Linked DNA regions of Homo sapiens: region 1 is linked to region 2. The links come from fine-mapping of genetic effects on gene expression. Tissue or cell type: unexposed skin. Region 2 holds a variant in brackets; the other region holds the start of a gene. All regions are shown on one strand. Distances are from middle to middle. Region 1 holds the start of TM4SF1-AS1 (TM4SF1 antisense RNA 1). Region 2 overlaps TM4SF1-AS1 (TM4SF1 antisense RNA 1).

Region 1 (5,380 bases), 9.1 kb before region 2:
ACCACATACATCCGTTTCTATCAGCTGTGCTGTTTCTGTTCTTTTCTGGATAACTGATAAAAAAAATAAGTATCAACATAGAATGGTAGAACAGCACAAATTATCCTGATATTATGATTGTGAATAGGCCTTACTTATATAGCTTAATAACTAAAAAAGGGGGCATTGTACATAGTTTGTATGTTTTATATGAGTGTATGTATGTGTATGTTTTATATGAGTGCATGTATACACAGGGGTAAGGGCATGGTTTGCCCTGGGCTTGGGTTAAATTCATATAGTTGCCATTCTTATTATATATGGATTCTATAATACTTTCTTATAAAGTAGTAAAATGTATTACACTTAATCAGGCAATTGTTCTGGTATAATGTATGAAGTAATTGAGATGCACTATATGAACACAAACTCTACATCTAGACTGCCTGGGTTCAAATGCTAACTGCCACTTTCTGGCAACGTGACCTTGGATGAATTACTCCATCTCTCTGTGATTTTGTTTCCTCATCTTTAAAATAGGAAGTCACTTCATAGGGTTATTATAAGGACTGAATTATTGAATCTATTCAAAAGCACTCTGTATTTGGGAAGCTGAGGAAGGGGTATTGCTTGAGCTCAGGAGTTAGAGGCTGCAGTAAGCTATGATTGTGCCACTGCATTCTAGCCTGGGTGACAGATCAAGACCCTGTCTCTGGGGGAAAAAAAAAGAAAGAAAGAAAAGAAAAGAAGCATTTAGAATTTGTTTAGGTCGGGGACTGGGGATCCATCCTTGGATACCTATTGCCTAAACCATGCCTGAGTCAGTGAGAATAAACACTGGCTAGGTGGGTGGATGGATGGATAAGTGGATGCCTATCTGGTTTGATAGAGCTGCCACTATATACATGTGGTGGATAAAAATGTGTAGCCATGTAGAGAGTAATTACATACTGGCCCTCAGTGCTGGCAAAGGTGTAGTTCCACTGGCCGAGGGAATCAAGACATAGTGGTCCTTCTGCTAAGCCAAGGGCTGCCACAATGACACAGTAGCCAGATCCTGCAATTCCAATGAGAGCAGCCAATACAGAAGAAAGCATCTAGGGAAAAGCAGACACACAGGAAGTGAGCCACAGAGTGCCACAGCTACATCTTAGGAGTCATTTTCACCACCAGGGCAGGAGGACCTACCGCACATCGTTTGCCACAGTTTTCATGGCCACAGCAGCCACAGCAGTCATCCTGTTCCAGCCCAATGAAGACAAATGCTGGCAGGAGCATCTGGTTAGGAAACAAACAAAGTCAGGTCATTGTCTTGCTCAGGCTCATATGGGTCAGGTTAGGCATCTCTTGGTAAAATATATTTATTTCCAATGACATTAACTGGCTTTGATTAGGTTGACCAGATATCTCAAAGAATGTAAACCTCTGAGGAGAAAAAGACCATTTAAATGTCATATCTGCTTGTTTTCATGTAATCTGTCAAAGCATTTTTTAGGGTGAGGATGTAACATGGGAGGAGTAAAATAATAAACTGTAAACGTGTTTATTCCACAAGAGTTTATCACACGACCCCAGATAACAAACTCTGTTTTGGAAATATTAAACCCTTTCTTTAAATCTGATTTTTTCCACTTGTAAAATGCAGAATATACCAACAAATCTTTAATAGAATAACTGAAACTTTTTTGTAAATGGGAGACATGAAAGCTATATATAATAAATATTAACTGCTTCCTTGATTATACAAATGCATAGTTTTAACTTAACAATATTAAGCTCTTAAAATATAGTAAATATGAAATACTTCAGGTTCAAGATCGAAAGAAACTTAAGTGTGATGTTATGTTTAAGACAAATAATCATGTTAACATGATAATAATGCTTAAATTTGAGGCAGACGGGCACTGTGGCTCATGCCTGTAATCCCAGCACTTTGGGAGGCCAAGGTAGGAGGGTCACTTGGGCCCATGAGTTCAAGACCAGCCTGGGCAACATGGCGAAACCCCGTCTCATTAAATAAAATAAAATTAAATAAAATCTCATTAAATAAATAATTTAGGGCAGATTTGCCATGCCATAATCAGTGTATTAGGTTTAAATGTTTTACTATCTTTTACTTGATTAAGAAAATTTATCACGTATGGTACCATTCCATAAAATTTCTCCTTAAAATTTTTAATCCCAGCACTTTAAAGTAGCAAACTTAAGTTTGCTCACATTCTTTCCATGCTGTGGTTGAAGCTAATGCTTTCAGCTCCCAGGTTGGCAGGGAAATTCCTCTCACTTCAATCAAAAACAATTCTTGGAAAAAATAACACATTCCACTATTAGCTTCAGACACCGACCTGCTGCTAACTGTAGGGTTTTTCCTAGACGCCACACCCCAGCCTTACATAAAGGAGAAAGCTTAGAGTTCTTTTAAAATAGCAATGCACTCACAATTCATTATTTTTCCCTATCACAGATGGCTGAAAATAAACAGCAGAGAATTTGGATTCAAAACTGTTGATTTAGGCAGAGAACCAGCCAACCCCTTCCGGCTCCCCAGAGCAAATGTTAAATGACTGCCCGTTCTAGTAGAAACTCTATAGTCTCTCAAATCTGATTTAAAAGCGAATATCTGTTTCCTACCTATAGAGTTTAGCAAAAAGGCAGTTCACTTTTAGTTGAAAGAGCATTTTGTAAAACAACATCTCATAAAATTACTACGCTATACTGTACCAATCTCGCTTTTGTATAATCTGCTTTCAAAGGAATGAACAGCAACAAAAAAGTCACTTGATTTAGAAATATGCATTACAAAAAACTTTCCATGAAAATACATAATGAAAACATCTAGGAAACAGGAGAGAATTCAGTAATAATCCTGAATGACTTACCAGCAGGCCACCTCCTACGATGCCAGAAAAGAACCACACGAAGCGGCTGAGGTGGTTTTCGGAGGCATACTTTGTTTCCCCATTGGGAAAGTAAAGCAAAATATTAGCCGCGATGCACAGGAGGGCGAGCCCCACCAGAGAATGTCCGATGCATCGTGCACACTTCCCATAGCACATGGTGGTCTGCTAGGTTTTCTCCCCCTTCTCTTTGTCTTCAGCTCAGTGATACCCCAAATTAGATGAAAGTGTGCCCTTCTGGTGGAGAAAGCAAACACCACTCTCAGCCCATTCCTGCTACCTCTTAAATACTGCGATTCTTAGTCACTGAGGGGATGAGGTACTTTGCTTTCATTGGTCCTAATGGCAGGCTCTGGCTGTGGTGCGAAGAGGCAGGGGGAATGTCCCGCCCTTCAGACGAAATCCTTGGGACAGGCAAAACCAGGGGCAGGATGTGAGAAACAGCCTCAGTCATAGGCAACAGGGAAAATGATTAATCTTGAACAAGGCATTGACTGTGCAACTCCTCCACAAGATAAAGAATCAACAGGAAAGCCTAACATGACTTTCCAGTAACTGCCAAGTGTCCGAGATGCAACAGCCCTGGTTGAGGCTTTGAAAGACAGTGAGCTGTGCCCCTGCTCCATGCAGCTGTCTGGACAGCTTCCAATCTGAGAGCTCTGTGTTCATTTCTACCTTTGTGCTGATTTAATTTACAACCTGGGGCAAATCTCCTGAGCTCATTTCCTTGTCTATTAAATACAAGGTGTCTGAGACGTCTCCCATGGATTTGAGAAGGCTGTTGGGAAAACTACAGAGCAAACTTCTTTACTCTGCCTACAGCAAGCTCTGCAGGATGGATTTCAGTGTTCAGCGTCCCTGGACATCTGCCTCTAAAACAAATCTGCACCACAACAGAGGTGGCATCAGTCAACACAAAGGGCTCAGGTGCTTTTTAAAAATTATTGAGTGTTGCTGTCAGGAAAAGCAATGCCAGGAAGGGCCAAGGAAGGCCTAAAGCATGGGACAAAAATAAAAAGAGGAAGAAGAGAGGGGGAGGAAGAGAATGGGAGAGAAGGAAAGAGGAAAGGAGGAAGGAAGAGAGGAAGGAAAGAAGAGAAGGAGGGAGAGAAGGAGAGAGGGAAAAAGGGAGGAAGGGAGGGAGGGAGGAAGGAAGGAAGGAAAAAAGGAAGGAAGGATGGGGGGAGGGAAGGAAGGAGGGAGAGGGAGAAAAAAATAAGACAAAGGGACTTGGCAAGCAGAGTGGAGAAACAAGGTTCAGAGAAACAGAACTGGCTAGGAGTGTCAGAACCCACACAGAGGTAAACAGATGGTTTACCCAGCCAGATCCTGAGACCAGCTTCCACAGGCTCCCCACACAGGGCAGAGAAAGGGTGTTAGACTAACTTTCTAGGTGGTTACCTTGCAGAAGGAGGGGCTGGGCACTGAATAAATTTATGCCTTGAACAGCAGATTGCACCAGCCAGTGGATGGTGGTGGGAGGTGGACAGGGTGGCCGGGTGGGGCCAGGCCTGGAGGGCCTTGTCACCAGGACAAGATAGAGAGTACAGAAAATAGAAAAGGACCAAGGTAGGGAGGCATTAGCTTAGAAGAAGAAGGTGAATGAGGTTCACGAATCTAGAGTCTGAAGGATTTGGCCCGGAACTAGAGGGCGGGACACATACCAAATTTGAGGAGACCAGCTGTGGTTAGTGATGTGGCATGGGACCGGAGGAGGGCCCAAGAAGTGTGGCCTCAGCACACTAACAGGGGTGAAGCCAGAATCCAGGATGGCCTGAGGAAATAAATCAGTGGAGTTGGGAAGCGTGGAACCACCCACCTGCTCAGGCGGAGGCAGGCAAATCCTCATAAGAGTGTCATTGGGTCACCACTATGTGTCCAACAACAGGGAACGTGTGTTTGGCCCGATGGCTTAGAGACAGGATTCCACTGGTGACAGAGCCTATGGGTGAATGACGGCATCCTTTGTTGAAGCATAATCATTGCAACCCTCCTGTCTGCTGATCTATCCCACCTGGGGCCAAAATGGGGGAAAGTGATGCTTAAACTACTGATATGGTTAGGCTTTGTGTCCCCACCCAAATCTCATCTTGAATTGTAATCCCCATAATCCTCACGTGTCAAGTGAGAGACTGGGGGGAGGGAACTGAATCATGGCAGCAGTTTCCCCCATGCTGTTCTTGTGATAGTGAGTGAGTTCTCATGAGATCTGACAGTTTTATACGGAGCTCTTCCCCCTTCTCTTGATGATTGTCTTTCCTGTTGCCTTGTAAAGAAGGTGTCTTGCGGCCAGGCGCAGTGGCTCACGCCTGTAATCCCAGCACTTTGGGAGGCCGAGGCGGGTGGATCACAAGGTCAGGAGATCGAGACCATCCTGGCCAACATGGTGAAACCCTGTCTCTACTAAAAATGCAAAAATTAGCTGGGCGTGGTGGCGAGCACCTGTAATCCCAGCTACTGGGGAGGCTGAGGCAGGAGAATGGTGTGAACCCGGCAGGCGGAGT
Region 2 (5,380 bases):
GGACAGGGGAACAAAGGTCTGGAAATTCGGAATGTCATACTCCACATTTTGCATTTTTGACTCTTTCTATCCATATACTTTATTCTTCTTAGTGCAGTCTCATTGTCTCTGGTTCTCAGTTCACACACAAAAAATATGGCTACTGACAGTTCTGAAGTTTATAGTTTTTTCAGTTCAAGAGATTCATCCCAAGTCCAGATTGTGAGAGAAGGGACATGCATTGGACAAGACCAGGCCAGGTGCCCATGCCTGTGGGGTCAGGTGCCCATGCCTGTGGGGCCTGCATAAACATGGCTGCTGGGAGCCATCCCTGCAACCAGGTACATGCAGGAGAAGTCATTCTCAGGAAAAGGTGAGTGTGGGACCAGGCAGGGAAGCCAGTTTCTGTCCTTTATTTGGAACCATAATCAAGGCAGACAACCACAGTAAAGAGATGCAGAGGCAGGGAGTAGTGTAAAACCACCTTACACACAGCTTCCTGGCTTTCCCTTCACTTTAGGTTGTAGCTCAAGTTATTCTTGGGCTAAAAAATAAGCTCTGTTGGCCCAATTAAACCAGAATTAATCACCAATTCCCCATCTTTATCTGGTAATTTTAGTTCAACATTGCTCAGCTGATGGCTCATTAAGCCAAGAACTCTCCCAGGTCTCAGTTACCATTTTCAGACAAGACACCTCCTGGGGTGCCTGCCCTGTGGTCTGAAGCTCAAGATGTGGCTCTGGGTCTCCCTTCCTGAGGGCTAGCTACCCAGAAGGGCTGGTGTGACTTCCTCTTGAATGGGTGAGCTGAAGGCATCCAGGGCACCTAGGGCAACTAGTGCATAAATACTTGAAGGGGAAAGGACTCTCATGTTCTGATTTGAGTATCATTTCCTTGGGTTGAATAATTAGAGCCTGGCATGTGAGATGTGGAGGGCTTCAAAGACCATTTGATTTTCAACAGAAAACGGTCTATGGTTTTCTAAAACGACACACCCTGATTCAGCCCAAGGGAAACAGAATGTCTGTGGGTGAGGCCAGGAATCTGCATTTTAAGTAAGTCCTCCAAATGACTCCAGTGCCCAAGCAGAGTTGAAGTCCACTGATGTAGGTGGCCCAACTTTCTAGTTTTATACATGAGGCTACGCAAGTCCAGCAAGGTTCATTTCAGTTGAGAAGAAAAACCATTGATTAAAATAAAAAAAAAAAACCCTAAAAACTTTAAACTGATGAATTCATGTGTTTGCACCTTTTGAACCCGGTTCACCAAGTGGTTCTCTTTGTGAGGCAGGAGAAGTAGCAGGCCACTTGCAGCTCCTCTCTCTGTCTGATGGGAGACCAGGTCCTCCCTGGGAAAAGTAGCAAGTTCTCTCCTGCTGGCCTCCTTCCACAGATCACAGCTGCCTTTGGGGAGAATGACAAAAACTGTTCAGGGTTCCTGGGTAATACGTATCCAGTTTCTGTGCATTCAGGGGAAGAGGAGCGTGGAGCAGAAGGAGAGTGGGCACATGCAAGTCACTCTGATGCCGTCATTTAACTTTACAGCTCCGTTGTGCAAAGCTGTTTACAGGTGAGGAAACTGAAGCTCATCTGGGTTAAGCATGCAGGCCAAAGTCACAAGGCTGGCGAGTAATTAGGCCTGGATTCCTCCTACGCAAGTCTCCCTGACTCACATACCCATGCTCTTTCCTTCACACACTGGGCTGATTTTACTACAATGTTGATCAGATTCGGGGACTGTTTCTTTGGCACTTCTAAATAACACAATTTTGAGACATTAATCACTTGGATTCTACTTTAATTCGATGAATGATTTCAAGGTTAACCTGATGTCTCAAAATTAAAGCTACAGCTCCTGTTCTACAAACTTGGTTTTACTGTAGCAAAATAGAACTATCAACAAACAAGAGATGTGTGCAATGAAAAGTTTTTAAAAGAATTGTCTAGATTCAGTAGAGGAGAGAAATAATAGGGCCTATTTTCATTTCCTTTACCCTGGTCTAACTTGTAAAAGGATTTCCCTACCTGTGTCACTGGTCATGATTGCAAGTTGTCCAGGTTCTTGGCGTTTTGAACAAAGAATTGGACAAAACGCCCAGCAAAGCAAAGAATGGAGCAACAAAAGAACAAAAGCAGGGATTTATTGAAAATGAAAGTACACTCCACAGTGTGGAAGTGGGCCCGAGCACCAGCTCAAGGGCCCAAATACAGAATCTTCTTGGGTCCAAATACCCCTGGAAGTTTCTCATTGGCCACTTCATGCTTACCTCATGTAAATGAAGTGGTAGCCCGCAATCAGTCTGATTGCTTGCAGAAAGCAGCCAACCAGAGGATGAAGTGAAGTTACAAAGGTCACACTCCTGTGCAAACATCTGATTGGTTGCAAAAAGCAACCAATCAGAGGGTAGGGTGAAGTTACAAAGTTATACTTCTATGCAAACTGAAGACTCCGTCCACAATCAGTCTGATCAGAGCCACAGTCAGACCATTCAGAGTCTGGAGTGAAGTTACTAAATTGCAAACAAAGTCTCTACCAGCAATAAGTCTGATTTGTCGCTTACAGACAACTTCCCAACTGCCACGCAGAAAAGGTCAAAGGGAGTAGCCTCTGGTCCTTCTGTTACTGAGGCATGGAAAGTTAGGGTTTTCCTTTCAATTTAGTTCTAGGAAGTCAGTGTGAAAAGCCTTAGGTTCCCTGCCTCCAGTCTCTATTCTCCTGCCTCACATGGCCTTTTGACCTTATATAAAATATGCTTGCTTTTTTGCAGAAAGGTTGGGGTGAAACTCTCCACTCCTGCTTTCATACCATTTGAAGTTCAGACCAGTGAGATTTCCATCAGTTGGGAGTTGAAGATGCCACAAGGACAAGAACTGAGGATGGTTTGCTCAGAGCTGATTTTTAGACACCATTTTCCAGGGATCCCTGGTGACAGAGGAGCATTTTTTTTGTGGTTGAGTTCTGAATTAAAAAGTGTCGTACTATATATTTGTTTGGTCATTTCTATGACTTCAGCACTCTCAAAGACTTGGACAGAAGCATAAATAAGAGGCAGTGTGAGCATTCTCCAAGTAATCATTCCAAGTTGGTGAGTTCATACTCCACCTAGACCTCATGGCCTCGCCACTCTCAGT[C/A]AAACTGGTTTTTGTGGTTGTCAAAGTCCAACATGGCAAATTTCCCACTGATACTAAGTGAGTTGAAAACTCAAGTTACAGTTGATTTTGCCCTAGGGAATTTTACCAAGAACAGCTTTACAGCAGTGGAGAGTTGAAACGTGTGTGTGTGTGTGTGTGTGTGAGAGAGAGAGAGAGAGAGAGACAGAACGAGTGAGCATATGTGTTAGAAAGACAGACACCCAAAAAAATGTCAGATTTGGTTTGGCTACACTTCTTGCTCTTCTGGCCCAGGTGGACAGTTGACCTTCCTTCCCCCTACCTGTTCATAGTCTCTGACTGGCTTTGATGCGGGAGAACTGAAGTCCAAATAAGCATGACCCTAGCCTCTAATACAAACACCGTGCTTCAGATTTCCTCCCCAGAAAGGGAGTTGAGATTCTAACTAGCTGAGTCATCTAGTGACAACTCCCTTCATTGTGTTATGTTACAAAAACATAGTTGTTCACTATGGGAACCCGGATGGGAAATCCATTCCACTTTCAGGTTAAACCGTTAGCCTGGCCAAATGACTGTAAGATTCTACAAGGTCCTGATTTTTCAATAATGCCTTCACCATGATTTGGAAATTACTTTTTCAGACTTAGAAGGTGAGGAAAACTTGAGCAAGAATTGCAAAGGAACTGAAAAACCAATTTGAAACATAAACATTATCTGGAATGTTTATAATGCATGTATTCCTTGTCCAATAGAAACCAAATAAGCTTCTCTGATGAGACCCTTCAGAATAGCTGTCCCTAAGAGGAACTAAATCAGGAATTGGGGATAGCTGGCAAGAAGACATCAAAGAAAGCTCAGGATGTGGAATCTCTACATTGCCCTGGATCTTCTTTTGCAGGTGCAGGTTCCTAGAGTTCTTATTCACCATCCTGAGGACACCAGGGGAATAAAAAGGATTGCAGGGCCTCGTCCTTCTTGACCTTCTCCCCCTCTGATTTCCTGACTGTCTTCTCAGTGGTCCTGATGTCTTCTATAATGACTCGATGTTTTTAGGAATCAGAGTCCTGGACACAGAGACACATCCAGGTTTGGCACCAGGCTTGTGTGAGTTCTTTTCTATTTTTTTAATGAAGAAGAAGGAAGAACATAAACAAGTGTAAGTGGAAAGCATTTTTTTTCCTTCTAGATCACATATGTGACATTTTACAGGGATTTCTTCTAGGTTGTCAATACATTAAAGACAACTAAAAAGATTATTACAGGGAATTCTTAAAGTCTTAAAGGAAGATAGTCTCACAGGAGGATGAGATCTCTGACAAATCAATACGTTAATTATTGTCTGAAAAGGACGTGGAGCAAGATTTCCCCCTCATTTTCATTCTTCAGTTAGAGCTTCTGATCAACATAAGGATCATTCACCCAACAAATATTTACTGAGTAATCCCTGAATGTCAGGCATGAGTCTAAGAGCGTCACACTCATATCTTACTACGTTCCACAGCAACCTTCTGAGGTAGGTGCTATCGTAAACACTATCACACAGGGTATAAAACTGTAAGAGCTTAAGTGCCTTTCCCAAGGCTTCACAGATTGTCCAGCGTGGCCAGAATTTTAATTCAGGCAGTCTAGATCCAGAGCCTCTTAATCACTGTACGGTGTTGCCTCCAACCTGGAGGAACTGGTCTGAAGAGAACAAGTATTACCACGAGTGTTAATACCATTATAGGTAAAATACACGTAGTGCCTAGATATTGGTTTCTAAATATGGTTCTCCAATGAAAGGAATGAAGGCACTTTGGACTTCGGAGAAGTGGTGGCTGATATCAGGGCTGAAACAACAATATGAGATGATTATGGAATATTTTGTGCTGGTGTTCTGTGTTCTTTCATGAGATGATCATTCAGGTGAGGTCACAAGAGGACATATAAGGAGGCTCAGGAAAACACAGTTTACTGTACTCACAGATCCTAAAGACAAGAGGCACAGGACACCACAAAGGGCCTTGGGGGAAAGCTCTGGGGTGGCCAGGAGGCAGAGGGGCAGGAGTGAGAGGAGATCCAGGCCCATGGTCATGTGAAAAGCAGGGCAAGATGAACTGTTTAGGTTTGAATACTTTCCATAGGCTCTAAGCCATAGAGGTGTCCCCTAGTTGCCTGGTACCTGGCCTTGGAATGACTAAAGCAGAGAAGGGTTACCTCTTGTGTGTATAGCCAAATAGAAGAGATAAGGATCTGGTCTGGTTAGTTTACATATTAGAGACATGCTCCTGGCTGAGAGGGGTGTTGGTCTC

The links. PIP is the estimated chance that this variant, and not a neighbour inherited with it, causes the effect. A credible set is the group of variants that fine-mapping cannot tell apart.
Region 1: TM4SF1-AS1 starts here. The variant in region 2 is the best candidate, but not a certain one, in a credible set for the expression of TM4SF1-AS1 in unexposed skin (GTEx, PIP 0.66).

Annotation. Positions count from the first base shown.
Region 1 is chr3:149,374,513-149,379,892 of GRCh38, forward strand. It overlaps TM4SF1-AS1 (TM4SF1 antisense RNA 1), which reads left to right and starts at 3,266. Exons shown (of 2, transcript NR_109810.1): 1 at 3,266-3,803. It overlaps TM4SF1 (transmembrane 4 L six family member 1), which reads right to left and starts at 3,137. Exons shown (of 5, transcript NM_014220.3): 1 at 2,859-3,137; 2 at 1,168-1,257; 3 at 931-1,076. The coding sequence starts at 3,035.
Region 2 is chr3:149,383,622-149,389,001 of GRCh38, forward strand. It overlaps TM4SF1-AS1 (TM4SF1 antisense RNA 1), which reads left to right. Exons shown (of 2, transcript NR_109810.1): 2 at 2,751-2,962. Among named protein-coding and RNA genes, the nearest start is that of TM4SF1-AS1, 8.5 kb to the left of the region's middle. RefSeq lists an enhancer at 3,147-4,346. The variant C/A (reference allele first, on the strand shown) is at 3,111.